Homo sapiens: one gene and its partners. The protein of the gene in region 2 purifies or fractionates together with the protein of the main gene of each other region. This does not show direct contact. Each region holds a gene or a part of one and is shown on either strand. Other genes may lie near its edges.

The links.
Region 1: the proteins of CALR3 (region 2) and TMEM132A purify together in Homo sapiens (affinity purification with mass spectrometry; 3 studies listed by BioGRID and IntAct, with this or other methods). This does not show direct contact.
Region 3: the proteins of CALR3 (region 2) and CLN5 purify together in Homo sapiens (affinity purification with mass spectrometry; 2 studies listed by BioGRID and IntAct, with this or other methods). This does not show direct contact.
Region 4: the proteins of CALR3 (region 2) and ITGA8 purify together in Homo sapiens (affinity purification with mass spectrometry; 2 studies listed by BioGRID and IntAct, with this or other methods). This does not show direct contact.

What each region holds. Positions count from the first base shown.
Region 1 is NC_000011.10:60,927,438-60,934,463, reverse strand, and holds part of TMEM132A (transmembrane protein 132A isoform b precursor), read right to left. Parts: intron 6,824-7,026; coding exon 6,605-6,823; intron 5,836-6,604; coding exon 5,504-5,835; intron 3,955-5,503; coding exon 3,805-3,954; intron 2,779-3,804; coding exon of another isoform or gene 2,776-2,778; coding exon 2,580-2,775; intron 2,481-2,579; coding exon 2,337-2,480; intron 923-2,336; coding exon 720-922; intron 1-719. UniProt on the Homo sapiens protein: May play a role in embryonic and postnatal development of the brain. Increased resistance to cell death induced by serum starvation in cultured cells. Regulates cAMP-induced GFAP gene expression via STAT3 phosphorylation.
Region 2 is NC_000019.10:16,486,148-16,493,173, reverse strand, and holds part of CALR3 (calreticulin-3 precursor), read left to right. Parts: intron 1-2,603; coding exon 2,604-2,807; intron 2,808-7,026. UniProt on the Homo sapiens protein: During spermatogenesis, may act as a lectin-independent chaperone for specific client proteins such as ADAM3. Required for sperm fertility. CALR3 capacity for calcium-binding may be absent or much lower than that of CALR.
Region 3 is NC_000013.11:76,995,055-77,002,080, forward strand, and holds part of CLN5 (bis(monoacylglycero)phosphate synthase CLN5), read left to right. Parts: intron 1-8; coding exon 9-174; intron 175-847; coding exon 848-1,073; intron 1,074-2,988; coding exon of another isoform or gene 2,989-3,017; exon of another isoform or gene 3,018-3,031; intron 3,032-5,403; coding exon 5,404-5,915; 3' UTR 5,916-7,026. UniProt on the Homo sapiens protein: Exhibits palmitoyl protein thioesterase (S-depalmitoylation) activity in vitro and most likely plays a role in protein S-depalmitoylation.
Region 4 is NC_000010.11:15,639,915-15,646,940, forward strand, and holds part of ITGA8 (integrin alpha-8 isoform 1 preproprotein), read right to left. Parts: coding exon 6,932-7,026; intron 4,308-6,931; coding exon 4,116-4,307; intron 1-4,115. UniProt on the Homo sapiens protein: Integrin alpha-8/beta-1 functions in the genesis of kidney and probably of other organs by regulating the recruitment of mesenchymal cells into epithelial structures.

The DNA of each region.
Region 1 (7,026 bases), on a different chromosome or scaffold from region 2:
GGCCGTCAGCGCTGAGCGGCCCCAGCCTGCCCAGGGCCCAGCTGCTGGAGACCCGCAGCTCGTCCCCGGCGGCTCCTAATCACCAGCAGCTCCTGTTTCTCAAACGCAGACATCCGCCCCTCTTGGGGTCAGGCCCTTCCACCTGCAGGCGAGCCGCCCCAGCCCACTCCCGACTGGCGCTGTGCCTCGATCACCGCTCTTGCTCCCAAGTGGACCGCAGGGGAGACGCTCTCTTACGGGGACCCTGGGGGCGCTCACTCTCTGAAGGGCCTGGAAGCTAGATTCCAGAGGCGTGGGCCACCTCTCCCTGGGTTTTGGGGAGCCCCCTCCGAGGGTGTTCATTTCCTGAGCTCTGTGTCATCTTAGGCTCTGAGGGTACGACCAGCATAGACAGACCGCAGCTTCAAGGGGCTGACATTCTCGGGGGAGGAGCGTGGAAAGGATGGACAGGCAACATTAACCAGTACTGACGTAGATTAGGAAGTGGAGGGTGCTACGGGAGAAGTGAGGCAGGGAAGGAGGAGAGGGATGCGGAAGTCAGCAATTTCACAGAAAGCGATCATTGGCTGGGCGGCCCAGGGTGGAGGTGGGCAGAAGGAACTGCAAGCAACAGGGCAGTTTTTCTGACCCCGACTTGGGCCCATGGCTGTGTCCCCTGCGCCCTCTCCGTCCCAGTGTGACTCGCCAAGGCCTGCCAGCTTCCTCAGGCCTCCACTCACCCTTCAGCAGGGCCAGGTACCCTCCAGCCGCGGACCTGCTCGAGGGTGGTGTCGGTGAGCTCGATACGCAGCGGTAGCAGGGGGGCCCACACGGTCAGCCGCAGCGAGGCGCGGAGCCGGCGCCACCAGAAGTCCACTCGCACCCCCCGGGCGCCCCGGCTCTCCTTGCCAGCCACGAACACGGCATCACAGGCCTCAGACACCTATGGAAGGGCAGAGGGCAGGTGGGCGGGCTAAGCCACTAAAGACAGGTGTGAGGCTGGGCCGGGTGGGTGGCTCATGCCTGTAGTCCCAGCACTCTGAGAGGCCGAGGTGGGTGGATCGCTTGAGTCCAGGAGTTTGAGACCAGCCTGGGCAACATGGCAAAACTCCCTCTCTACAAAAAATACAATAAATCAGCCGGGTGTGGTGGCACATGCCTGTAGTCCTAGCTACTGGGGAGGCTGAGGTGGGAGGATCCCTTGAGCCTGGGTAGCTGAGACTGCAGTGAGCCGGACTGTACCATTGCACTCCAGCCTGGGGACAGAGTGAGACTCTGTTTCAAAATAAATAGATTAAAAAAAAAAAAAAGGCATGGGCCAGAAGAGAGCAGCCCTGACCTCAGGCCGTAGGACGGGCTCCCACTGAGTTCAGCTCTGTGTGTCACTGGAATGCATGTTGCAGCAGGATTGTTGGTTAAGCCCCTGTTCTTTGTTTAAGATTTTACTGTAGGGGCCATTCCTTGAGGTTCCCTGGGGCTCAGTCAGGGGAACTGGCCATTGCATACCAGTCTTCCTCCTGGCAGAGCAGGGGTGTGAACCCAAAACTTTGGCTCCTTATTCATGCTGGCCTTTGACATTGCTCTTGGAGCCACCTGGCAACCAGCTACAGCCAGGTAGGCAGAGGTGGGACAAAGCAGATCTCCCACCAAGGCCCTCCAGCAGGAACCACACACATTTGAGCAAAGGACCACAAGTGGGGAAAGGCACCTTCCCCCTTCAGGTGGCTGGGATTTGCATACATGCAGACTCCATGCTTCCCCTCTTAGAACTTCAAGATAGAGGAAGTTGCTCTACCACCCTCCCTTTTATTTCACTTCACAATCACCGGTAATAATAATAATAATAATTTTTACCATTGTATAATTATTACATCATATTATAACAGCAATAACTGCCATTGTTTCAGCCCCTGCTATCTGCTAAATACTGTCTTAAAGTGCTTTTAATTCTTACAACAACCCGAAGATATGTTCTCATTTTAAAGTTTAGGTAACGAGGCTCAGAGAGGTTAAGAGACCAGCCCATGATCACAAAGCTGGTTGACAACAAAGATGTGTTTCAAACTAAAACTTTCTGATCCCAGAGTATGTGCTCTCGACTCTCTCAGGCCAGCGCACTTGCCAGTGCAATAATGAGCGTGAAAGTGTCTAAGGTCGGGGGGCTGTTAGGGTTACTTGACTCGGGAGAGAGGTGGCTGGAACAAAAGAAGTTGAAGCTGTGGTTCCTCCCATGAGGTTTCTCGTCTCAAGAAGAAGCTGTTCTCTTGGGGACCCACATGAGGAAGGAGGAAAGGTGTGTGTGCGTAACTGTGCCCACACAAATGCAGACTCACATGAGCTGGGCACCTGCCACTCACCTGCAGGACCTGTGTGTTGGCAGACTCGCAGCCGACATGCTCTGTCACCTCCACCAAGGCCCCCCCGCCGTCCACAGTGACAAGGCGCACGGGGACATGCTGGGGCACTCCAGTCAGTGGTGCTGTATTCACCAGCTCCTCAGCCTGGGGGTGGAGGAGGGGCTCAGCCCCAGGCCCCTCAGCTCATGGGGCTCCTGGGACTTGGCCTCCAGCCTTCCCAGGCAGAGATGGAGGTCTCCTTACCTTGGCCAGTGGGATAAGGGCTCTGATGTCCCGCTCAGACACCAGGATTTCCCACACCATTTTGTCCTTCTCTGCTTCAGGGGCCTGGCCTGGGTACTCCAGCTGCCACGTGACGGGGCGAGTGACCGCTACGCCCCCACCAGTGCTATTCTCCACCACAAAGTCCACCCATAGGAACTCAGACAGTTCAAGGGGACTGCTGGCCAAAGGAGACAGAGAAGCCAAATGCTTGCTAGCTGCCAGGCATGGCCTCAGCACTTCCTGCATTCATGATTATCCCCATTTTACACAGGAGGAAACTGAGGCACAGAGGTTACATAGCTCACTTAAGACCACACAGCAAAAAGTAGCGGGGCTGGGATCTAAACCCAAGCATCCTCGCTCTAGACCCCAAACTCTGACCCACTCTTGGCCTCTCTAAGATCCATGAAGCCATTTAACCACCTCCCACCTGGCAAGGTGGCTCACTCCCCTGCCTGCCCGGGCCCGCTTCCCCCAGACTTCCGCTTTCCACAGCCACTGAGGTGGCATGCGGGAGATTCACTTCCAGGTCCCAGGACCAGACACTTGACCCTCTGAATGATAAGCTTCCTTTGATCAAACAAAAACCTATGTGCTGGGAACCGTCCTGGGTGCCTGATATGTAGCACTGTATTTTATTTTCAAAAATGCTAAGGGATGCATTATTATTCCTATTTCACAAGTGAAGAAACTGAGGCTTGGGTAGGGGAATGTTAACTGGCTTGCCCAAGGTTTTGCCCATCCCAAAAGCATCAGAACCAGAATTCGAACTGGGGCTACTGAGTCCATGGCCTTGACCCAGGCTCAGGGCATGAATAAGAAGAGTTCACAACCGCAGAACTGCAGCTGGGCTTTTTGGGGGAATGTGAACGGCCCAGAGAAAGGATCATTTGGTGGAAGCAGGGGGATGGAGTAGTGGCTATGAGGGCTCTACCTGGGGCACAGGATTGGTTGGCATCTCTTAGAATAAGACTCACAGACACTTGCTATGCCTGGCACATGGCTGGGGCTGGGAAGATAGTGGCCGAATGAATGAATGAAGGAATGGATTATGCCTGCTTTGTGCTGCTTCCTTGAAAAAATCTGTCCTTGGGTCTGCTCACCTGGGGATCTAGAGGCAGCATGGCAGCCTCCAAATCTGCTCAACTGCACTCTATAACCAGCCCTCCCTCCTTTGCCCCCTGGGTGGAGGGAAACTGCCCACCTGGAATCTGGCTCTGTGAGCCCAGCACGGTGGCAGGTGATGAGGGTGGTGTGGTGCCTGGAGCCCTTGAAGCGGTCCAGCTTGGCAGTCCAGAGTGTGGGCTGGGCTGGGCGGGCGGCTGTCACATGCAGCCCCTTCTTCACCTTGATCCTGGGGAAGAGAGTATAGGCTCAGTTTGGCAAGGTGCATGCTGAACTGTGGGCTGGATTGAAGGGGAAAGACAAGGAGCCAAAGCCATCTGACCTCCCTGGCTCCAGTCTGAATCTCCTCTTCACCATCCTCCAACCCAGAAGGACCCCGCCTCAGTGCAGCTCACACCTTACAGCTCTCCCCCACCCAAAGACCACTTACGCCTCCCCACTGCCCATAAGGTCAAAGCTTAGCCGGGCATTTGGGGGCCCTCCAGGGTCTGGTCCAGCCTTAACTTCGGTTGTGACATCTCTCCATGCACTCTCTGCTTCAGCTACACACAAGTTTCCCACACACACGGCACCCATTCGTGACTCCAAGCCTTTGCCCAGTCTGTGCCTTCAGCCTGCTCTGCCCTTTCTTACTTTACCTGCTGATGCTTTAAGCCTCCAACAACTCACAGACCATTTCCTTTAGAAAGCTTTTCCAGTGGTGGGATGAATTTCCCCCTTACTGCACCCACTCACCTGAGCTCCCACCGCACTTTGAACCTCCCTCAGTGCTTACACACCCACATGCCTTCTAATCCAATTCATGCCCATCCAGCTCCCTTCCCTACCACTGGGGCCCCTTTCTGCCAGATAGGGACTGGCCCTTGCTCGTGTTTGGATCTGCAGAGTGAAGACACAGGGCTTGGCAGGCTGTAAGTGTCTAGGAAAGATCTGCTTAATAAGAGTGAGCATAGGAGGGCGTAGGAGATGGGGAGACACAGAGACGGGACATGCACAAACCCAGGCAGGGCTTGAAACTAGGTCTAGGTTTCAAAGCATGTCCACAGACCGCTCTTCGATCCTCAGGAAAGATATCATTACAAAGTGAGCAAGTCCCAGTGCCTCACCCTAACCAAGCCCAGGACTATCCTGCCTAGAACTCAGGCTTCTCAGAATCTTAAAGCCTAAGAGATGCCTCTCCCATGGATTCCTGCGCTGGACTCCAGAAGCAAGTCATACTCTGCAAGCCCTTGCCGGGTGAACTGGGTAGGTGGGTGGGGGCTGCTTTGGGGGAACTTATTACGGAAAAGGACACAAAGAATCAGGGCCTTCCTATGGGGAAGAGCAAGCTCTGTCCAAAGGCTAGACTCCTACGGCGAGGGTGGCAAGGAGGGACAGCATGTAGGTGAACGTGATTGGGGCAAATATCCCTCTCTGGAGCACTGGAGCAAGAGCTCACACTTAGGTACTGCAGTCTCTAAGCCCTTTGCGGGTTCCCCTCCCTGGAGACTTGCAGCTGCCCTGAAGGTGGACCGTTAGCCCCATTGGACAAAGGAATCTCAGGGAGGTGCCAGGGGAAGGGGCAGCTTCCTACTTCTGACTCTAATTCCAGGGCTGTGCCCATGGTGGGCTCCTACCAGCACAGTCATGGCTTTTTACCTGGAAGGAGTTTAGTTTGGTGGACACATGTTTTGCAGAGGTCAAGGATTCCAGCAAGGACCCCAGGAGGAGCAGGTACCTGTCCCTAGTCTTCCCACAGAGGTTCCCACCCTCACCCATCCCCGTGGCCTGGTGCTCACCGCAGGGTCAGGAGGCTGGCTGTGAAGTTGTGCCGAAGCAGGAGGGTAGCACTAAAGAGCTGGCCGGGCCGCACTGGCATGTCAGGCACCCGCAGAGTCACAGCCTCGTCCAGAGGTACCTCCTGGTACTGCGGGGGGTCTGCTGGGCGCAGCTCCACACCCCCCACTGGGAGGGCCTGCTCCCCAGGGTCGTTCTCCTCGCCGGAGCCACAGCCCCCAGGGCCCTCAGCTGCAGGCTCAAGCGTGTAGGCCAGCTCGGCCCGTGTGGTGGAGGCCTGTGAGAACCAGTGCGAGGGAAGCTCCAGCTCCACCACGCAGGCGCCCAGGGATGGCTGTGAAGACACGACAGCAGTAATTGGCATGGGGGTGGGTGCAGGGCGAGGAACAGGATTCTCAGCACCCATGGCAGGAAACCCAGAGCTGGAGGGGCTCATGAAAGGGAGGCCCAGCATGGGCCGGAGACACAGCCTGAGTGACACAGCAAACCAGCAACCTGGCTGGGGCTTCAAACCAGGTCTAGGTTTCAGAGCATGTCCGCAGACCACTCTTCAGCCCTTGGGATAGGTCTCATTACAAAGTAAGCCAATCCCAGGGCCTTACCCTAACCAAGCCCAGGACTATCCTGCCTAGAATCCAGTCTTCTTCTCAGAATCCTAAAGCTCAAGAGACGCCTCTCCCATGGATTCCTGTGCTAGACTCCAAAATAGTGGAAATAGCAATTATAAAAGTAACACTACTAATAATGCAAACACACTGGCTGATTGATTACTCTGCCGTAAGCTATCCTTACATTCATCTCACTTGTTCCTTACTCCAACTCCAGATGGGGTAGGAATTCTTAACACCCCATTCTTCAGATGAGGAAACTGAATCTCAGAGAGATTAAGTTACTTACTCAAAGTCACACACCAAGGACTGAACTCCCTCTGGGGCCCTAAATAACCTTTTCACAGCACTGAAAGCTAGTGGGGGCAGAAATGGAGTCGGGTGGTCCACAACCCCCGCGCTTCCCAGGAGTGGGGGTTTCCTCTCTGCCGCGGGCCCACCACCTGGCTGATGCAGCTGCAGCAGGACCAGCCTAGGTGGGGCCTGTCTACTCACCTGGAAGCGGCAGGCTTGGTGAGCAGTGCCGGCAGGGTGTGTGGCATGGAGCCGGGCACAGGGCAGGCTGCCAGACCCTGGTGGCCAATCCTGCCCTTTGAGGTGGAAGAGAACCCGGGCGTAGGGCTCTGCTGGAGTCACAGCCGCTTCCACTGAAACGGCCCGCACGTCCCATGGGACTGGCCGTTGGTGGGGCTCAGTGACTCGAGGGGGGACCACCTGGAGGGAGAATGAGAGGGCTTAACAAAAGAGGAGCTTGGGAGGGGAAGATCTAGGAAGATGGGATCCCAGCTTGGCAGAAGAGAACCTTTATGGGCCTCAGTTTCCCCCTCTGGAATATGGGGAGCACAGCCGGGGCTGGGGAAGGCTCCCAATTTGTACCCAGCAGACCTCAGGCCCTGAGTCCTGTTAGCCTGAGAGTC
Region 2 (7,026 bases):
GTTTGTCCTAGTCATTTGCCAAACAAGAACAATGAGGAAGAAGGTTTATCTATGATTTAAGAAGCAGAGGTTACACCTGCATGCTGCATGACTCAGATCACACAACTTGCTCAAGGTTTTTATTTATTTTATGTATTTATTTGAGAGAGAGTTTCACCCTTGTTACCCAGGCTGGAGTGCAATGGCGTGATCTCTGCTCACCACAACCTCCGCCTCCCAGGTTCAAATGATTCTCCTGCTTCCAGCCTCCCAAGTAGCTAAGATTACAGGCATGTGCCACCACACCTGGCTAATTTTTTTTTTTTTTTTTTTGAGACGGAGTCTCGCTCTGTAGCCCAGGATGGAGTGCAGTGGCGCGATCTCGGCTCACTGCAAGCTCTGCCTCCTGGGTTCACGCCATTCTTCTGCCGAGTAGCCGGAACTACAGGCGCCTGCCACCACGCCCGGCTAATTTTTTGTATTTTTTTTTTTTTAGTAGAGACAGGGTTTCACGTGTTAGCCAGGATGATCTCGATCTCCTGACCTCGTGATCCTCCCGCCTCGGCCTCCCAAAGTGCTGGGATTACAGGCATGAGCCACCGCGCCCGGCCTAATTTTGTATTTTTAGTAGAGACAGGGTTTCTCCATGTTGGTCAGGCTGGTCTCCAACTCCCAACCTCAGGTGATCCGCCCGCCTCGGCCTCCCAAAGTGTTGGAATTACAGGCGTGAGCCACTGCGTCTGGCTTATTTATTTTTTTAAACGGAGTTTCGCCCTGCCACCCAGGCTGGGGTGCAATGGCTCCTCCATCTCCCAGGTTCAAACAGTTCAGCTGCCTGAGCTTCCCGAGTAGCTGGGACCACAGGCACGCGCCACTACGCTCGGCTAATTTTGTATTTTTAGTAGAAATGGAGTTTCCCCACGTTGGCCAGGCTGGTCTCGAACTTCTGACTTCAAGTGATCCACCCGGCTCAGCCTCCCAAAGTGTTGAGATTACAGATGTGAGCCACCATGCCTGGCCTCTCAAGGCTTTAAATTGTATTTGCTTTCACATATGTGAAAGTTTAGGCCAGGCACAGTGGTTCACACCTGTAATCTTAGCACTCTGGGAGGCCAAGGTGAGTGGATCACTTGAGGCCAGGAGTTCAAGACCAGCCTGGGCAACGTGGTGAAACCCCATCTCTACTAAAAATATGAAAATTAGCCAGGCATGGTGTCGCACGCCTGTAGTCGCAGCTACTCAGGAGGCTGAGGCAGGAGAATCGCTTGAACCTGGGAGGCGGAGGTTGCAGTGAGCAGAGATTCAGTCTGGGCAATAGAGCGAGCCTCTGTCTCAAAAGAAAAAAGAAAAGAAAGAAAGAAAGTTTAGTGTCCATTAAGTTTCACTGGAACACAGCCACATCCATTCTTTTTTTTTTGGAGACGGAGTCTCACTCTGTCACCCAGGCTGGAGTGCAGCGGTGCAATCTCGGCTCACTGCAACCTCCGCCTCCTGGGTTTAAGCGATTCTTCTGCCTCACTCTCCTGAGTAGCTGGGACTACAGGCACATGCCACCACACCCCGCTAATTTTTGTATTTTTAGTAGAGATAGGGTTTCACCATGTTGGCCAGGCTGGTCTCAAACTCCTGACCCCGTGATCCGCCTGCCTCAGCCTCCCAAAGTGCTGGGATTACAGGCGTGAGCCAGCATGCCTGGCAGTCCATTCATTTATATATTGTCTATGGCTGCCTTTTATGCTGAAAAGGCAGAGTAGAATGTTTAGGAAAGGGACCAGTCGGGCACGGTGGCTCACGCCTGTAATCCCAGCACTTTGGGAGGCCGAGGCAGGCGGATCATGAGGTCAGGGGATCGAGAACATCCTGGCTAACATGGTGAAACCCTGTCTCTACTAAAAATACAAAAAATTAGCTGGGTGTTGTGGCCAGCGCCTGTAGTCCCAGCTACTCGGGAGGCTGAGGCAGGAGAATGGCGTGAACCCAGGAGGTGGAGCTTGCAGTGGGCAGAGATCGTGCCACTGCACTCCAGCCTGGGCGACAGAGCGAGACTCCATCTCAAAAAATAATTAATTAACTAATTAAGAACAGTGGTATATTAAGAACAAAAACTTCCAGGTGTGTGAAATAAAAGTTGTATGGGCCAGGCACGCTGGCTCACACCTGTAATTCCAGCACTTTGGGAGGCTGAGACGGGCAGTCACCTGAGGTCAGGAGTTCAAGACCAGCCTGACCAACATGGAGAAACCCTATCTCTACTAGAAATACAAAAATTAGCCTGGCGTGGTGGCTAATTGTAGTTGTAATCCCAACTACTCAGGAGGCTGAGGCAGGAGAATCACTTGAACCCGGGAGGTGGAGGTTGCAGTGAGCCGAGATCACGCCATTGCACTCCAGCCTGGGCGACAGAGTGAGACTCCATGTCAAAAAAAAAAAATTATATAGAAGCAGAGTGCCTGCTAGTGGTCTACCCATTATGCATTATTGTATAATGCTCTGTTGGCACTGTAGATCACTGTAAATGGTTAGGACATTTATGTTTGGGAGTAAGGGAAGGACATCGATTTAACTTCCTGCGTTACTTAGCGCAGCGTCATTCCTGATCCTTCATGAGTATATTTTGTTCAAAGGTCTGCAAACCACTCAGAATGGCCGATTCTATGCCATCTCTGCACGCTTCAAACCGTTCAGCAATAAAGGGAAAACTCTGGTTATTCAGTACACAGTAAAACATGAGCAGAAGATGGACTGTGGAGGGGGCTACATTAAGGTCTTTCCTGCAGACATTGACCAGAAGAACCTGAATGGAAAATCGCAGTACTATATTATGTTTGGTGAGTTTACGTGGTGCAACACAACCACTTCTAGTGACTTTGAAAACCCTCCCACTTCACAGGATCTTTAGACTAAGACTTTGCTAATGTAGTGAAGGTAGTAGTATTGAGTATATCGGATCCAAGGTTTGTAGTAGTATTGAGTGTATCGGATCCAAGCACTATTAAGCCTAATTAATATAAAAAGGCAACTGTACCAGTCTGTTGTGTTCCTGAAGAAGTTATTTATTCACCATTAATGTTGCCCTCATGCAGGGTAAGGATACCTTATCTGAAATGTTTGGGACCAGAGTGTTTTGGATTTTGGAAATTTTTTTTGGATTTTGGATTATTTGCATTATCCTTACTGGTTGAACAACGCTAATCTGAAAAATCTGAAATCCACAATGCTCTGATGAGCATTTCCTTTGAGCATCATGTTGATTCTAAAAGTTTTGGGTTTTGGAACACTTCAGATTTGCGATTTTTTGATTTGGGATGCTCAACCTGTGTAGTTTTTTTGTTTGTTTGTTTTTGTTTTTGTTTTTGTTTTTGTTTTTGTTTTTGTTTCGAGCCCGAGTTTTCACTCTTGTGAACCAGGCTGGAGTGCAATGGCAATGGCTTGATCTCGCCTCACTGCAATCTCCGCCTCCTGGGTTCAAGTGATTCTCCTATCTCAGCCTCTTGAGTAGCTGGGATTACAGGCATGTGCCACCATACCTGGCTAATTTTTTTGTATTTTAGTAGAGATGGGTTTTTTTTTTTTTTGAGACAGAGTTTCGCTCTTGTTGCCCAGGCTGGAGTGGAATGGCATGATCTCGGCTCACTGCAACCTCCTCCTCCCAGGTTCAAGGGATTCACCTGCTTCAGCCTCCCAAGTAGCTGGGATTACCGGCATGCACCACCATGCCCAGCTAATTTTTGTATTTTTAGTAGAGACGGGGTTTCTCCATGTTGGTCAGGCTGGTCTTGAACTCCCGATCTCAGGTGATCCGCCCACCTCAGCCTCCCAAAGTGCTGGGATTACAGGCGTGAGCCACTGCACCCGGCCAAGATGGGGTTTCACCATGGTGGTCAGGCTGGTCTCGAACTCCTGGCAGGTATCGAACTCCTGACCTCAGGTGATCCACCCACCTTGGCCTTCCAAAGTGCTGGGATTACAGGCGTGAGCCACCACGCCTGGCCTCAACCTGTGTTTTGAATCCTTCAGTACTCAGTAAACCTTGGCCGTGGGCCAAATTGGCCCACTGCCTGTGTTTATATAACCTGTGAACTAAAAATGTTTTTTACGTTTTTAACTGGTTGGAAAAAATCAATACAAGATGATATTTTGTGATACATGAAAATTATATGAAATTTAGATTTCAGTGTGCATAAATGAAGTCTTACTGGAATGCAGCCTCACTCTGTTCATTTATATGTTGTCTGTGGCTGCTCGCCAGTACCAGTGGCAGAGTTAAGTTGTCATGACAGAGATCATTAGGCTTACAAAGCCAAAAATATTTTACCATCTGGCCTTTATAGAAAAAGCCTGCAAACCTCTAGAAAATATTAAATGTCTCCTGACAACAGGGGTACTTGATTAAAATTTGTGCTAGAACTGGGAAGGGACCACACTGGGCCACAGGAAATAGACCTAAGTATAGTGTAACTTAAAACTTTAATAATAAATGTACCTCAGGCCGGGTGTCGCGGCTCACACCTGTAATCTCAGCATTTTGGGAGGCCAAGGTGGGCAGATCACTGGAGTTCAGGAGTTCAAGACCAGCCTGGCTAACATGGTAAAACCCTATCTCTACTAAAAATACAAAAAAAATTAGCCGGGCATAGTGGCACATGCCTGTAGTCCCAGGTACTCAGGAGGCTGAGGCAGGAGAATTGCTTGAACCTGGGAGGTGGAGGTTGCAGTGAGCCGAGATCTCACCACTGCACTCCAGCCTGGGTAACAGAACGAGACTCCATCTCCAAAAAAAGAATGAATGTACTTCCAAAATATTCATCCTCAGCTGGGCACAGTGGCTTATGCCTGTAATCCCAGCACTTTTGGGAGGCCAGGCAGGAGGATTACTTGAGTCCAGGAGTTCGAGACCAGCTTGGCCAACATAGTGAGACCCTGTCACTACAAAAAATAAAAATTAGGGCTCTGTGCGGTGGCTCACGCCTGTTATCCCAGCACTCTGGGAGCCAGAGGCGGGCGCATCACCTTAGGTCGGGAGTTCGAGACCAGCTTGACCAACATGGAGAAACCCCGTTTCTATTAAAAATACAAAATTAGAGCCGGGCGCGGTGGCTCACACCTGTAATCCCAGCACTTTGGGAGGCCGAGGTGGGCAGATCACGAGGTCAGGAGATTGAGACCATCTTGGCTAACACAGTGAAACCCCGTCTCTACTAAAAATACAAAAAATTAGCCAGGTGTGGTGGTGGGCACCTGTAGTCCCATCTACTCGGGAGGCTGAGGCAGGAGAATGGCCTGAACCTGGGAGGCGGAGCTTGCAGTGAGCTGAGATCACGCCACTGCACTCCAGCCTGGGCAACAGAGTGAGACTCCGTCTCAAAAAAAAAAAAAAAAATTGAAAATTAGCTGGGCGTGGTGGCGCATGCCTGTAATAATCCCAGCTACTCAGGAGGCTGAGGCAGGAGAATCACCTGAACCTGGGAGGCAGAGGTTATGGTTAGCCGAGATTGCACCATTGCACTCCAGCCTGGGCAATGAGAGCAAAAATCCGTCTCAAATAAATAAATAAATAAATGATACAAAATACAAAATAAAAATAAAAATAGAACTAAAAAACACCCAGATATCTGAAACATCAAGGGAGGATCACTTGAGCCCCGGAGTTTGAGACCAGCTTGGGCAATATAGCAAGACCCCATCTCTACAAAATGTTTTTTTTTTTTTTTTTGTGGAGACACAGCTTCGCTCGTCGCCCAGGCTGGAGTGCAACGGCACGATCCCGGCTCACTGCAACCTCTGCCTCCCAGGTTCAAGCGATTCTCCTACCTCAGCCTCCCAAGTAGCTGGGGTTACAGGTGCCCACCACCATGCCCAGCTAATTTTTTTGTATTTTTGTAGAGACGGGGTTTCACCATGTTGGACAGGCTGGTCTCGACCTACTGACCTCAGGTGATCCACCCACTTTGGCCTCCCAAAGTGCTGGAATTACAGGCGTGAGCCACCACGCCTGGCCCCATCTCTACAACAATTTTAAAAATTAACCCAGTGAGGTGGCGCACCCCTGTGGTTCTAGCTACTCAGGAGGCTGAAGCAGGGGAATCCCCCGAGCCGAGGAGTTTGAGGATGCAGTAAGCTATGATCACACAACTGCACTCCAGCCTGGATGACAGAATAAGACCCTGTCCGAAATAAATAAATAAATAAATAAAGACCCCTATATAGCATGTGTCTACTACATCTGAATTGCCAAGCAGCATAATTTGGGGTCAAAAAAAGATTAAAATAAATTTTTCTTAGTATTTCAGTTTTTAATTCAACAGTTCCATTTTACTCAAACCCACTCTGTTACTATTGGGACACTTTGTTGCAATGAGTCAGCGCCAGCCATTAGTGTGAGGGGAGCTTGCTGAGGGTGAGGGGTTAAGGAGGAGGACAAGGGAAGCACAGTTATTGTCAGTCTTGACATTTGCATGAATTCCTATGCATAAGTTATGCATAAAACCTCAGACAGGCAACACAGAGCCCATCTGTCTACATTTCCTCATGAACATCCATTACATGTGTAAATACCTTTTTTTTTTTTTTTTTTTGAGATAGAATCTTGCTCTGTCACCCAGGCTGGAGTGCAATGGTGCAATCTCGGCTCATTGCAACCTCCGCCTCCCAGGTTCAAGCCATTCTCCTGCCTCAGCCTCCCCAATAGCTGGGATTACAGGCGTGTGCCACCATGGCTGGCTAATTTTTGTATTTTTAGTAGAGGTGGGGTTTCACCATGTTAGTCAGGCTGGTCTCGAACTCCTGACCTCGTGATTCACCCGCCTCAGCCCCCCAAAGTTCTGGGATTACAGCCGTGAGCCACCATGCCCAGCCCACACTTTTTTTTTTTTTTTAATTGAGACGGAGTCTCGCTTGGTCACCCAGGCTGGAGTACAGTGGCCCGATCTCAGCTCACTGCAACCTCCACTTCCTGGGTTCAAGTGATCCCCTCACCTCAGCCTCACAGGTCCCTGGGACTACAGGGACACGCCACCACTCCCAGCTAATTTTTGTATTTTTAGTACA
Region 3 (7,026 bases), on a different chromosome or scaffold from region 2:
TTTATTAGGCGCTTTGACTTCCGTCCAAAACCTGATCCTTATTGTCAAGCTAAGTATACTTTCTGTCCAACTGGCTCACCTATCCCAGTTATGGAGGGTGATGATGACATTGAAGTTTTTCGATTACAAGCCCCAGTATGGGAATTTAAATATGGAGACCTCCTGGGACACTTGGTAAGGATGCATCTTGGTCTTATAACTTTGGTTAATTCAATGATTTGGTTATTAAGTTGATTTTTAAGGAGTAATCACTATTTAGATGGCTGACTTTAGATCATGTTGGTGTTTGTCTTAGTACATTTAAAATGAGTAGTCAAAAATAGTTACTATCAGATTTTGTAATCTTGACAACAACAAATGTAATCACCATTATCCATTGTAATATTATGAATCTGAAACCAGCTCCTGTACCTAGCTCCTGGAAGGTGAGAAGAGGCCCAGAAGTGGCAGGGCAGGCAGGTAACACCTCTTGATTTCCATACTCTGTTGTAGTCACTTTTCCAGGTTAACCCATCACCATGTGAGGTCTGTAGAGCTGCTTCCAGAGACTGGCATGGGGGCTCCTCACACTTATTCTAAGCTCTAAGGAAATTATCAGCTTGTCCACATAACATGCAGGCCTCCTATTTGAGATGAGCCAAATAGGGGTGTAGTGGCCAAAGCTGGGGTGGATGAGGGCCTGGAGTTTGGGGCCACAGAGTGGATATGACAGTAGCAGCATGGAAGAACAGCTGAACAGTTGTTCTACTTGATATGCATTTGTGATGTGCCACATTTTCTCCTATCAGGTTACCTGGACCCATGGTTGTGTCACAGTTGCTTTTATACATGTACTGTCTTTACACAGAAAATTATGCATGATGCCATTGGATTCAGAAGTACATTAACTGGCAAGAACTACACAATGGAATGGTATGAACTTTTCCAACTTGGCAACTGTACATTTCCCCATCTCCGACCTGAAATGGATGCCCCTTTCTGGTGTAATCAAGGCGCTGCCTGCTTTTTTGAGGGAATTGATGATGTTCACTGGAAGGAAAATGGGACATTAGTTCAAGTAGCAACTATATCAGGTAAGTTGTGAAAATATAGCAATATTTGATCATTGCATCAAAAACCAAATGAAAGAAATTGTTATACTTCCATTGAAACATTTCAGTAATGTTTTACTTAGAGGTCATTTGTAAAATGTACTTTTGGAACCATTAAACTTTGGGAATTTTTTTCATCTCTTATTTGTATTTTTTATTTATTTTATTTGAATAGGTTTGTGGGGAACTGGTTATGTTAAGTTACATGAATAAGTTCTTTAGTGGTGATTTCTGAGATTTTTGCGCACCCATCACCCGAGCAGTGTACACTGTACCCAATGTATAGTCTTTTATCCCTCACCCCTCTCCGACCCTTTTCCCCGACTTCCCAAAGTTAATCATTCTTATGCCTTTGCATCCTCATAGCTTAGCTCCCACTTACAAGTGAGAATACACAATGTTTGGTTTTCTATTCCTGAAGAGTTACTTCACTTGGATGGAATTGGAGACCATTATTCCAGGTTGCTGCAAATGCCATTATTTCATTCCTTTTTATGGCTGAGTAGTATTATTCCTTGGTATATATACACCACATTTTCTTTATCCACTCATTGATTGATGGGCATTTGAGCTGGTTCCATATTTTTGCAGTTGCAAATTGTGCTGCTATAAACATGCATGGGAAAGTATTTTTTGCGTATAATGAGTTCTCTTCCTTTGGGTAGATACCCAGTACTGGGATTGCTGGATCAAATGGCAGTTCTACTTTTAGTTCTTTAAGGAATCTCCACACTGTTTTCCATAGTGGTTGTACTAATTTACATTCCTAGCAGCAGAGAAGAAGTGTTCCCTTTCCCCCACATCCCGCCAATATCTATTTTTTTTTATTTTTTGATTATGGCCATTCTTGCAGGAGTGAGGCGGTATTACATTGTGGTTTTGATTTGCATTTCCCTGATCATTGCATTTCCCTGAGCATTTTCATGTTTCTTGGCCATTTGTATATCTTCTGAGAATTGTCTATTTGTGTCCTTAGCCACCCCCACCCCGCCTTTTTGTTGTTGTTGTTTGTTTGTTTGAGGTGGAGTTTTATTCTTGTCGCTCAGGCTGGAGTGCAATGACACAATCTCAGCTTGCTGCAACCTCCACCTCTTGGGTTCAAGCGATTCTCCAGCCTTAGCGTCCCAAGTAGCTGGGATTACAGGCGCCCGCCACCATGCCAAGCTAATTTTTGTATTTTTAGTAGAGATGGGGTTTCGCCATGTTGGCCAGCTGGTCTCAAACTCCTGACCTCAGGTCATCTGCCCACCTTGGCCTCCCAAAGTGCTGGGATTAAAGGTGTGAGCCACCACTCCCGGCCGTTAACCCACTTTTTGATGGGATTGTTTTTTTCTTGCTGATTTGAGTTCCTTGTAGATTCTGGATATTAGTCCTTTGTCAGATGTATAGATTGCAAAGATTTTCTCCCACTCTGTGGGTTGTCTATTTACTCTGCTGATTGTTCCTTTGGCTGTGCAGAAGCTTTTTAGTTTAATTAAGTCTCATCTATTTATATTTGTTTTTGTTGCATTTGCTTTTGGTGGAACCACTAAACTCTGACCCAAACTATTACTCATGCAGAACTTCACCTGTTGGTGATGAGTAGCTTATCTCTGATCTTTGAATGTTTCCCTAAAAATGCTCTTTTCCCATCATAAAAATGAATAAAATGATAAAACATTTTGTACAATTAAATTGGTCTTTCTAAACGAAATAGTAAGAGAAATCCATAAAATGCCTGATTAAAGGATATGTTAACTATATCTGAAAAAAATTTTAGTGATGATATTTTTATGTTGAAAAATAATAGCTACTAATATAGACTGGTTCTGGCACTGTTCTGAGTACTGTACATACATCACATCATTCATCATCACAACTTCTGGAGGTAGTAACTATTATTTTGCCTATTTTACAGATGGAGAAACTGAGGCACAGAGAGGTTAAAGTTACACAGCTTAGTAAGTGGGACTCCAACCCTGGCAGTTACGCCCCATTGCCCATTCTCCTAACTACTTTGATACATTGCCTCCCAAAATGTATATGATCTTATATTTGAGACCCTCTTGAGCAGTTTAAATATTTTATCTTTGAGATTTTTTTCTTCTTTTGGATGTATTGGAAAGTTGCTGAAAGTTGGAATTGTGTTGCAAGTGCTGCATTGTTGGTTAGTAATGAAAAGAGTTCAGCAATCCTTTCATTGGTAACTCCTTATGTGACTTGGGTCACATTTTATATCTTATTGGCCCGTTGCCTCATGTGCAAAATGGAGACAATATACCATAGCATTTGAGAAGTAAGGAGCTTGTCCATATGATTTATGAAGCATTACATTATAAATTGCTGTTCCCCAGAACAGTAGAAACATCTGAAATGAAAGCACTGTTGTGACAATAATTATTCAGTGAACCCCAGGACTTGAGGAAGTAATCATGCTTCCTATTTGTATAGCTCTTTACAAATGATTTGGAGGTATGTTAACTCACGGTTCAGTGGAGAGGATAAGATACTCATTCTCTGCAAATAAGGAATTGAGGCTCAGCCAGGTAACATGACTTACTTGCCTCTCAAGGTCAAAGAGCTGGATGTAGCAGAATCAGGAATAAAACTGAGGTCTTTTAAATGTAACAAGGATCTGTTAGCCGAATGCACCATGTTGTTTTCTAATATTTCCTGCTACTTTCTAATCAATGTGCCTTAAACCATACCAACAATACAAAAGTCCATCATTAGCGGTTCTTTCTTTCATTCCAGGCCAGTTCACACCTTTCCCCATTTCCACCTACATCGTTATCTGAAAATCCTTCCTTCTGACATAAAGTCAATGATCATATGAATAAGTGATCACTATTTTTTGTAAAATAGTTCAAAATATGCCAGTACTTAAATCTTTTAAGTCATTTATTTGCCTTGTGAATAATCCTGTGATTGACAAAATAGTGTTTTGAAGCATTCTTGTCTCATAAGGATAGTGGTGGCATTTGAAAGTTGAAGAATGCTAAGAACAGTATCCCCAGTTCTAATACAACAGGCTTTATTCTGTTCTACAATTTTAATTCCATAAAATTGATAAAGGCAGTCACTCTATTCATTTTACAGAACATGAAGTATTTATTTTATGGACTCAAGTTGGAGTAACCAAAGAGGTTTGCACACAGTGACAGGATGCAGTGTTTGGGGCCCAGTTCTATTAGGCATTATAAATGCCCAAGATGAGAGTTGTAACCATGCAGAGTAGTGTTTTCTGAATATTTGGAAAGATTCTTCTGGTCTAGTACAAGATGGTAGAAGAGAGGGTTAGCCATCCTGGAGTATGAACTCGGCCTAAAACATTTCCAGTTTAGTTGATTTGTTGGAAGGACTTAACGTGGCAGGTGGAGAGGTCATCAGCAGCATCCCAGCAACTCCAAGTACAGGGAAGAAAGAAACGTACCAAACACACAAGGTGGATGGGGTATGGTGCTTGTTCTCATAACAGTAATAGCCAGCCTTCTAGAGCAGTGGCTCCTCAGGCAGCCATTCATACTTTATGTGTAGCATGCTTTGCAACAGTGAAGCTCCACATTTCCCACACCTCCATTTTCCTTACACTGTCTTTGCCCATTCTGCTTTTCCTCTTTCGCAATTCTTTTTGTGCTTTCCTTTTCTCTTTTGCCTCTGAATCCAAGATTTGGTGAGTTGGGTAGAGAAAGAGAGCTTCTGCATTTGTATAATTTCGCTTTGACTATAGCTTAAATGATTATAGAATTAGTATGTAAGATGACTTCTCCTTATACACCTATTATATCTAATGTTTATAATTCAGAAATATCTTGTGCCTTGAAGAATGGAATAAAATTGGCTGAGCTTGGATTCCTGTTGTGAAATGCAGGTGTGGAAATTCAAAACCATTGTTTACTCAGGCATCCAGTCTTAATCAAGTTAGAACATTTTACTTAAAATTAATATGATTAGGCCAGCCATGGTAGCTCAAACCTATAATCCCAGTGCTTTAGAATGCTGAAGCAGGAGGATCACTTGAGGTTGGGAATTTGAGACCAGCCTGGGCAATACAGCAAGACCCCGTGTTGCCCAGGCTGGTCTCAAATTAAAAAAAAGAAAAATTAAAAAATTAGTTGGGTTTGGTGGCCAGCGCCTGTAGTCCCAGCTACTCAGGAGGCCGAGGTGGGAGGATCACTTAAGCCCAGGAGGTCAAGGCTGCAGTGAGCTGTGATGTTACCACCGCACTCTAGCCTCGGCAACAGAGGGAGACCTGTCTTAAAAAAAAAAAAAAAAAAAATTAACATGATTAGCTTTGTTCACTAGGTGACTTTGTTTTGTTTTTTTAAACTAGGAAACATGTTCAACCAAATGGCAAAGTGGGTGAAACAGGACAATGAAACAGGAATTTATTATGAGACATGGAATGTAAAAGCCAGCCCAGAAAAGGGGGCAGAGACATGGTTTGATTCCTACGACTGTTCCAAATTTGTGTTAAGGACCTTTAACAAGTTGGCTGAATTTGGAGCAGAGTTCAAGAACATAGAAACCAACTATACAAGAATATTTCTTTACAGTGGAGAACCTACTTATCTGGGAAATGAAACATCTGTTTTTGGGCCAACAGGAAACAAGACTCTTGGTTTAGCCATAAAAAGATTTTATTACCCCTTCAAACCACATTTGCCAACTAAAGAATTTCTGTTGAGTCTCTTGCAAATTTTTGATGCAGTGATTGTGCACAAACAGTTCTATTTGTTTTATAATTTTGAATATTGGTTTTTACCTATGAAATTCCCTTTTATTAAAATAACATATGAAGAAATCCCTTTACCTATCAGAAACAAAACACTCTCTGGTTTATAAAACACCTTAATTCTACTGCTCTTTTTTCTCCAATCACCAGCATCTGTTTTTCAGGGGGTGATTTTACTTTTGTGAATTCCTTAGCCTTTCTTCCTTGGTGCATAAAGTTAAAATGCACATCAGCAGAATTGCTGCATATTAACATCTCAGGACTCTTCTCTTGTAAAGAAGCTGAAATTCGTACTATATTGGCCAAAGTGAGCGAGTTAGGTGATCTTGGTTTCAATTTCCGAGCCTTTGTTAATATGGAGAATTATGGTTCATATCAGTTATGTAGGACCTTTGGACCCAGGGTCCTACAGATAGATATGGTGTGCCCAGATTTTAAAAATACCTTCAAAAATAAAAAATACATTCAGTGACATTTTCATGGTGGGAGCTCTTCTTTCTGATATGGCAGTTACACTTTTTCACTTAAGTGCTTTAGTTTAGACTAACTTTACAACTTCTATAACTTTTGGAACCAAGTTTAGTATAGTCTGATTACATTCCATTCACCTAACTTTAGACATTCGTTTAGACACCATAACTGGAGTGATTGTGCTTCTAGATGTGGCAAATCCAGTGTTAACACATATTTCTGGCTGAGATTTTGGAACTAGCTAGTAACTGGCTTGTGTTCTTTAAGCATACTAACATCACTAAATCTTAGGATTTAGGATTGCTGTAAAGATGTAAGTTGTGTATGTTTGGCAGGTCACATTGAATGGCAGTGATAATGATTAATCAAAGAACAAATGTCATCCTTGATCTTGCCTAATGTAGTTTATGTGCCAAACTTTCCAGGGTTTTGTAGTCACCTAGATTTTAAGCTGATAGCATAGTGCTTCAGCGGTTCTTCTAACCGGGGTATGCAGGAACATGGCTGCAGACACGTTTGGGTAAACAGGCACCTTCTGACTTCTTCATTGTTTCCTGTAGTTCTCCCTCTTCCCACAAAGCTGTCAGCGCAGTGGAAGAGGTTGCACTTCTCCGAGAGAGGACAGGTTTCTGTTAAGATCACCAAGTAGCTGTGCTTTAATTAGAGCCAGACAAGCTTTCAAGGTCCTTTAAGTATTTGATGATCAACTGAACACGTTTCTATTCAAGGAGAAAACACCATTCAGTAAGA
Region 4 (7,026 bases), on a different chromosome or scaffold from region 2:
GTTGAATAGATTGTGAAGCTCAGAAGGCACAGTAATCTGTGTTGTGCAAACCCTTATCAACTCCATTGGGGATGGCAGCATGTTCAAGAGGCTGAAAAACAGCCAGCAAGTGAGACATGAGGTTTCATTGAGGACCTACGTACAGGGCAGAGAGTCCGGGGGTAGAGGGCTGGGCAAGAGAACTGCAACCGCTTGCAAAAGGCATGCAGTTTATAAAGCATCTTCACTTAGTACTCTCCCACTGACAACCTCCACCTGGCAACCTTCATTTAATCCAAAAACAAAGGGCCTCAATCCCCTCTACGGCCCGTGTTCCACGGGACCGACCTGGGTGTCAGGTCTTCCTCATAGACAAGGAATGGATCTCTGGGCTGGCCACTCCCAGATTCCGTAGCTCAGATTTCCCAGCCACATTGGGGTGTGTGTGCCACCCAGGGTCATTTTGGGGTATGCTGATGTTATCGCTCTCAGGTGTATTTACTTCATAATTTGAAAGGCAAAGTGCTTTTGATTTGAAAAAGCAGGACCCCAGAGTGAAAGAAATTGTTTATCTTTTTAAGTTCCAAAAAGCACTGGTTTGGAAAAATCACAAAACAAGTCATGGAGGCCTAGAACGTAGCATTTACTGACTGAACTATAGGGTTTAGAAAGCATGCCATCCAACTACCTTTAGGGGAAAGAGGGCTTTTGTTACTTCCCAGGCAAAACATCACAAGACTGCAGCTCAATCAGGGGCTGGAGCAATGAGATGCCTGGGTGGAAACTGGCAACAGCTAAGGAAAATCTAGGTAGATAAGCCTGAGGGCAATCACAGAAACCTGAATACCCAGCCTGTGCGTGTCTGAGTCCTAACAGTGGCTCAGAAGCATTTGCTAAAAGGGGACTGAAAGAGGCTAACAGAGGACGAAGAGGGCCCAGGACACAGGGAAATTTTGAGCAGAGGTCACTACACAGACAATGGAACGAGCCACAGAAGCTTGAGCAATGCCCCAAAGGCCACAAGGGACTGAGCTACCCTTTAGTCTGAAGCCAATAATAGCAGATGATGGGTGTGAGCCAGATATCTCTTCCCAGTCGCTGGACAACAGGTAAACCCCTTTCTATTTCATTCCTTGGGAGGGTAGCTACACAGGGTGGAGAAAAAGAGTCTTTTTTCTGAGATGGAGTCTCGCCCTGTTGCCCAGGCTGGAGTGCAGTGGCGCGATATCGGCTCACTGCAACCTCTGCCTCCTGGGTTCAAGCAGTTCTCCTGCCTCAGCTGCCTGCGTAGCTGGGACTACAGGTGCATGCTACCACGGCTGGCTGAGGGGTCTTGAATCTGAATAAATACTTACCTAAATAAGACTAAATCTAAACATAGAAGTGATTGCAAGATCATCATTTTCTACCATGGTGGAAATGGAGGCTTTGAAAGCTAAATGGAATTCATTTCTAGAAAAATGAAGAAAGTTACATGTCTGATTCCTGAATTTGGCCTGCAGCTTTCAATCAACTGTAATAAGAGAATCTAGTCGCCTGCCTCTAAGGCAGTTTCTTCTCTGTAGGTCCTGGGATCTTGCTATGAAGTTAAAAAGGCTTCTTTGAATGGCATTCTTTTTGCTAGAGGATGAGGATCAGGGAAAAATGTTATAGAATCATGAATCACAAGATATCCATATTCCTATTTGAGAGACAGAATTGGCGCCAGAACCCAGGTCTACCAAGATGCATGGATGAACTCTGAAAGCCTCAAGACTCTTGAGGGATAAATTCAACCAAGCAGCATTGACGGGCCTGCCTTAGTAAAGAACATTTACTTCAGAGACAAGACGCACAGCACTGACATGTCTGATTATTATAATTTGCATCAGACTCAGCAAAGTTGTTGACTAGCACATGGCCTCAAGTGAATATTTCTGATTAAGGGAAGAAAAAGACATAATTAAGAGGTAATCGGCTGATGTGGTGGCTCACACCTGTAATCCCACCACTTTGGGAGGCTGAGGTGGGCAGATCACGAGGTCAAGAGATTGAGACCATCTTGGCCAACATGGTAAAACCCCATCTCTACTAAAACTACAAAAATGAGCTGAGTGTGGTGGCACACGCCTGTAGTCCCAGCTACTTGGGAGGCTGAGGCAGGAGGACCGCTTGAACCCAGGAGGTGGAAGTTGCAGTGGGCTGAGATCGTGCCACTGCACTCCAGCCTGAGGGCAGAGTAAGACTCCGTCTCAGAAAAAAAAAGGAAAAGAAAAAAAGAGGTAATCAATTACTAACATTGCACAGACTTTAGCTTCCTTTTCCCTTCCTGCTGCTTTTAAATTTTTTCTCCCTGAAGGGAGTATTCCTGGGGAGAAAAGTTGACTCATGCCTCTGTCCTTCCTGGCTCTCATTTGGGACGTGTTTAGCCTTGGAAGGAAGTCAAAGGACTGGCTATGTGATGGATACATCCTCTATTTCCTTTGCCTCATCAAAGGCACAGCCTTTCTGTCAATTTTCCTGGTACTAAGGGTGGGAAGGAGACCTATGACTACCATAATAAATAGCAGTAACTTTCTAATTGTTTACCTAAAATGCAACCCAGGAGTTGAATTTCATTAATCACCCTGACATTTTTGGGGTAGGAATTACATAAGGGACCTAGATTTTTGAATTATTTTAAATTTGGATATATTATGTATACAAACCTCTCCCCAGTAATAACAACTAACCACCATTGATTAGCATAATGTAACCTAAGAAAATAAATTTAACTAGATGTTCTTGAAATTGCCACAGGTAGGAAGCATTAGTATACGATATAATACCAAATCCACTTTGAGCCCACTATGACGTCTCCATTAGTGTCATAAAAGGTTTATGGCAAATTTATAAGAATATGTTGCGGTATCCTTTTTGTCTAATCCCAGAGGAGAGAAGAAAGCCAAAGGCCTGAAATTAATGATGTATATTTAGGCAGTCAGCTTACTGGATGCTGCCCCAAACCAAAAAATAGCTCTACATATGGAAAATTCCCAATCAGGGGAGGGGCTAGTGGAAAGAGACAAGGTTTTTATAAGTAGTTGAAACTGTCATTTAACTATTAATGACTTCTAAGTATTTATTGAAACCATCTTAAACATAAAAGTGAAAATCAAACCCTAAAACCAAGAAGTCTGATGTTCTCTGCTAAAAAACCTGGACAGTGAAATAATCTTTTAAGACAAATCAATGTCTTCATATAGCATGCACAATACATAAATTACCTGTGCCTCATGGCTTTCCATGTGCCTTCAATGTGAATTAGGTAAATCAAGAATAGTTATGGTTCCTATCATGAACCAGTTCTTTTTTTCTCCACTTTAAAATGTTCAGTCTATCTTTGGAAAACCACAAAATATGGCTGGAAGAGATACATATATTTTTTGAGACAGTCTCACTCTGTCGCCCAGGTTAGAGCTCAGTGGCTCGATCTTGGCTCAGTGCAGCCTCCGCCTCCCGGGTTCAGGTGATTCTTGTGCCTCAGCCTCTAGAGTAACTGGGACTACAGGCATGCATCACCATGCCCAGCTAATTTTTGTATTATTAGTAGAGACGGGGTTTTACCATGTTGGCCAGGCTGGTCTCGAACTCCTGACCTCAACTGATCCACCCACCTCGGCCTCCTAAATACTGATGAGATTACAGGCATGAGCCACCATGATGGGCCAAGCTGGAAAATATTTATGCTTTAAAAACATGAGCTTCATGACAGACACGTTGAGGTTCATGCTATAATAGGAGCTATGAGCTCAAAAGGGTTAAAATAATTTGCGCCAGAAAGGATGCAAGCTGTCTATGTCAGTGCAAGCCGCGGTATTGAGGAGTTTCAAATGAAAACTTGGGTTGTGAAGTTGACAAGTTTTATGTACAATGCAGATTGTTAAGCCATTCTGCCTTTCTATCATTGTCTCTTGACAGGAGAAGGAAGCGTGTGTTTGTCTTTCTTCAAGTTCTCATGAAAGTCGCTCTGGAATCGTACATTAAAAAAGCCTGTGGCATGCTTAAGCTTCAGCCTCATCTGTAGAAGAAAACTGCCTTTGCATGATGCATTTTTCAGAAAATGGACTCTATTTCAGGACGTAGACTCTCACGTGGGAAAAGAAAGAAAACCTTACCTGGGTAATCATTCTTGTCTATGTCTGAATCTCCTCTTAAAGTAAAGCCAAATCCGGAAGGGACAGCATGTGAGGCCCACACTCCTTGCAGAACTTGGGAAGGCTTGGTGTTTAAGCCATCTTTGTTCCCATTATAAATGAGCACTTTGCCTCTTTGATCCTTGCCTGCAAAAGGCACTCCGATGGCAATGTCTAAAAACAGACATAAAACATGTTTTATGTGTATATGTATTTAATTCTTCATTTGTTCATTTTAGAGACAGGACCTTACTCTGTCACCCAAGCTGGAGTGCAGTGGTGGGATCATGGCTCACCGCAGCCCCACACTCCCGGACTCAAGTGATCCTCCTGCCTCAACTTCTCTAGGAGCTGGGACTACAGGTGCATACCACCATGTCAGGCTAATATATATATATATATATATATATATATATATATATATATATATATATATATATATATAGAATTTTTTTTTTTTTTTGAGCAATGGGTCCTTGCTTTGTTGCCCAGGATGGTCTGGAATTCCTGGCCTCAAGTGATCACCCCACCTCAGCCTCCCACACTGTTGGGATTAAAGGCATGAGCCACTGTGCTTGGCCATAGAGACGTTTCTTTTTTAAGTACAGAAGAATGGTTCAGAAATAGTTTAGTATACTCAAAAAGCAGTATCGAAACTCTAAAGGGCTTATAATGTTTTCCATGAAAATTCTGTAGTACTGCTGCAATGACAAATTATTTGTTGCCTTTTATCCATCCAACAAATATTTATTAAGAGCCTCCAGGGCCTGGCGCGGTGGCTCACACCTGTAATCCCAGCACTTTGGGAGGCCGAGGCGGGCGGATCATGAGGTCAGGAGATCGAGACCATCCTGGCTAACACAGTAAAACCCCATCTCTACTAAAAATACAAAAAATTAGCCTGGCGTAGTGGCGGGCGCCTGTAATCCCAGCTACTCGGGAGGCTGAGGCAGAGAATTGCTTGAACCTGGGAGGTGGAGGTTGTGGTGAGCAGTGAGTTGAGATCGTGCCACTGCACTCTAGCCTGGGTGACAGACTCTGTCTCAAAAAAAAAAAAAAAAAAAAAAAAAGATGATCTAAAAACTCAGATTTTTGTAGAAAATAAAGATATTGTCTTGTGTCAGGCGAAAAGGAACACTTTCGACACTTTCTTAACTTTCTCTAAGTCACTGCCTTGACTCCCATCCCCTTGTTTACTCTCAGTGAATTTCACATGATTTTACCTACTTTGTATACTCAAGGACACCAAAGCTCAGAGAAGCTAGGACCTCCCTTTATGTCATTTAGAATGCTTCTTTTATCTTTTAAAAATACTATTAAAGGTTTGAGAGAAAAGACAAATAGAAGAAAATATGATTTTAAACGACAGCTCCATAGATAATTTAGCACTATTTATTTTACTTGAGTGATCAGGAATAGAGCAGCTTTACAGAGTAGCAAGTCACTTAAAGGTAAGCTTGTCTTTTAAAAAATTTCCCTGGAACCATAAGCTTTTTACATGTACTTTGTTTTATGATACTTTAAAATTTACTAACCATATGTTGCTGAGAACTTTTTTTCAAAGAATGTGTAAGAGAACAGAAACATTGGCCAAATATACTAATGAATACTAATCTGATGTGAATACTTCCAAGGCTACTTTGTTACAGCAAGTTCCTGTTACTTCCTTGAGTTCAATCAAGAAATTCACTATGCTCGGTTCTTAACTAAAGAACCTGAAGTGCATTTAAGAAAATGCATACATTTTCAGGTCCTGAAAATGTATGCAAACTTTTGTGTGAAGGTGTGTGTTTTTCTGAGGAGAGGGTACTTGGAGGGGTTTCATAAATTCTAACCTAAAGAACTACAAGCCTAACCTACGAGTTTAACACTACTTTGTTGCAAATATTGAAACTAAGGTGAAGCCTACGTGCCAATTAAAATTCAGTATAACCTGTACATAACCCATGTAGGCTGATCAGAAGTCAGGATACTTGCTAATATATCAACATGTATTTATTTGTCTTGACATATAGAAGGTTTCCTAGTTACCTTTAAGTCACCAAATCCAAACATCAATTTTAAAAATAATTCCTGCCTCTACTGAGAGCTATTACAGGATAGCCAACATCAAATGTGAGAAAATTGCTTGGACGTCAGAGCAATGACGATTTTTGTATTAACTTTGGCTTTAAAGTTTTAATTCTTAAAACTGAATAAGAAATATTTCTGCAAGTAAACAGCACTTATAAGTAGAGAAGTTTAAAGTTGAACATTTGAGATGTTATTTTGAAGTTTGCAGAAACCTAAATGTACTTATTTTTATTGTAACCTGGAGTGCCTGTGGCCTTCCAATGTCTCTTAAAATTCATTTAGAGGTTTTCAAAATGTAGTAACACCCTCAAACCATTACCTGGAGCTCTGAAGACTGAGCTCTGAGGTAGTATGGTTTTGACATTGCTTAATGAGGTTTTTCTGATGTTTCTGATAACCGAATGTGTCTTCTACAAGGAGATCAATTATACTAAATTTAGGATTGAAACAAATTATGTTACAGATTTTTCTCTGTGTTGCATTGTAATCTTGTGAGATTTGAAATAAAAATTTTCAGAAAGGTGAGAAGGGAAATTTCCATGTAATATTTATATTAGTCAAAATGTATAAACGTAAAGCTGCCTTGAGATTTGTGATAGTTTATTAAAAATCAGTAATAATAACTGCACCCACACACACCATACTGAATACTTTAAAACAGGCATGGTCTCCTTTATGCAGTGGTGACGACACATAAATGACTTCCACGCTTTGGTTTAAATTACCATTGTATCCATCTTGGTTCAGGTCTCCTAAGTGTGCCATAGCACTACCGAATCTCCCAAACGTCTCGGTGCCAGTGAGGATCTGGGGGTCTCTG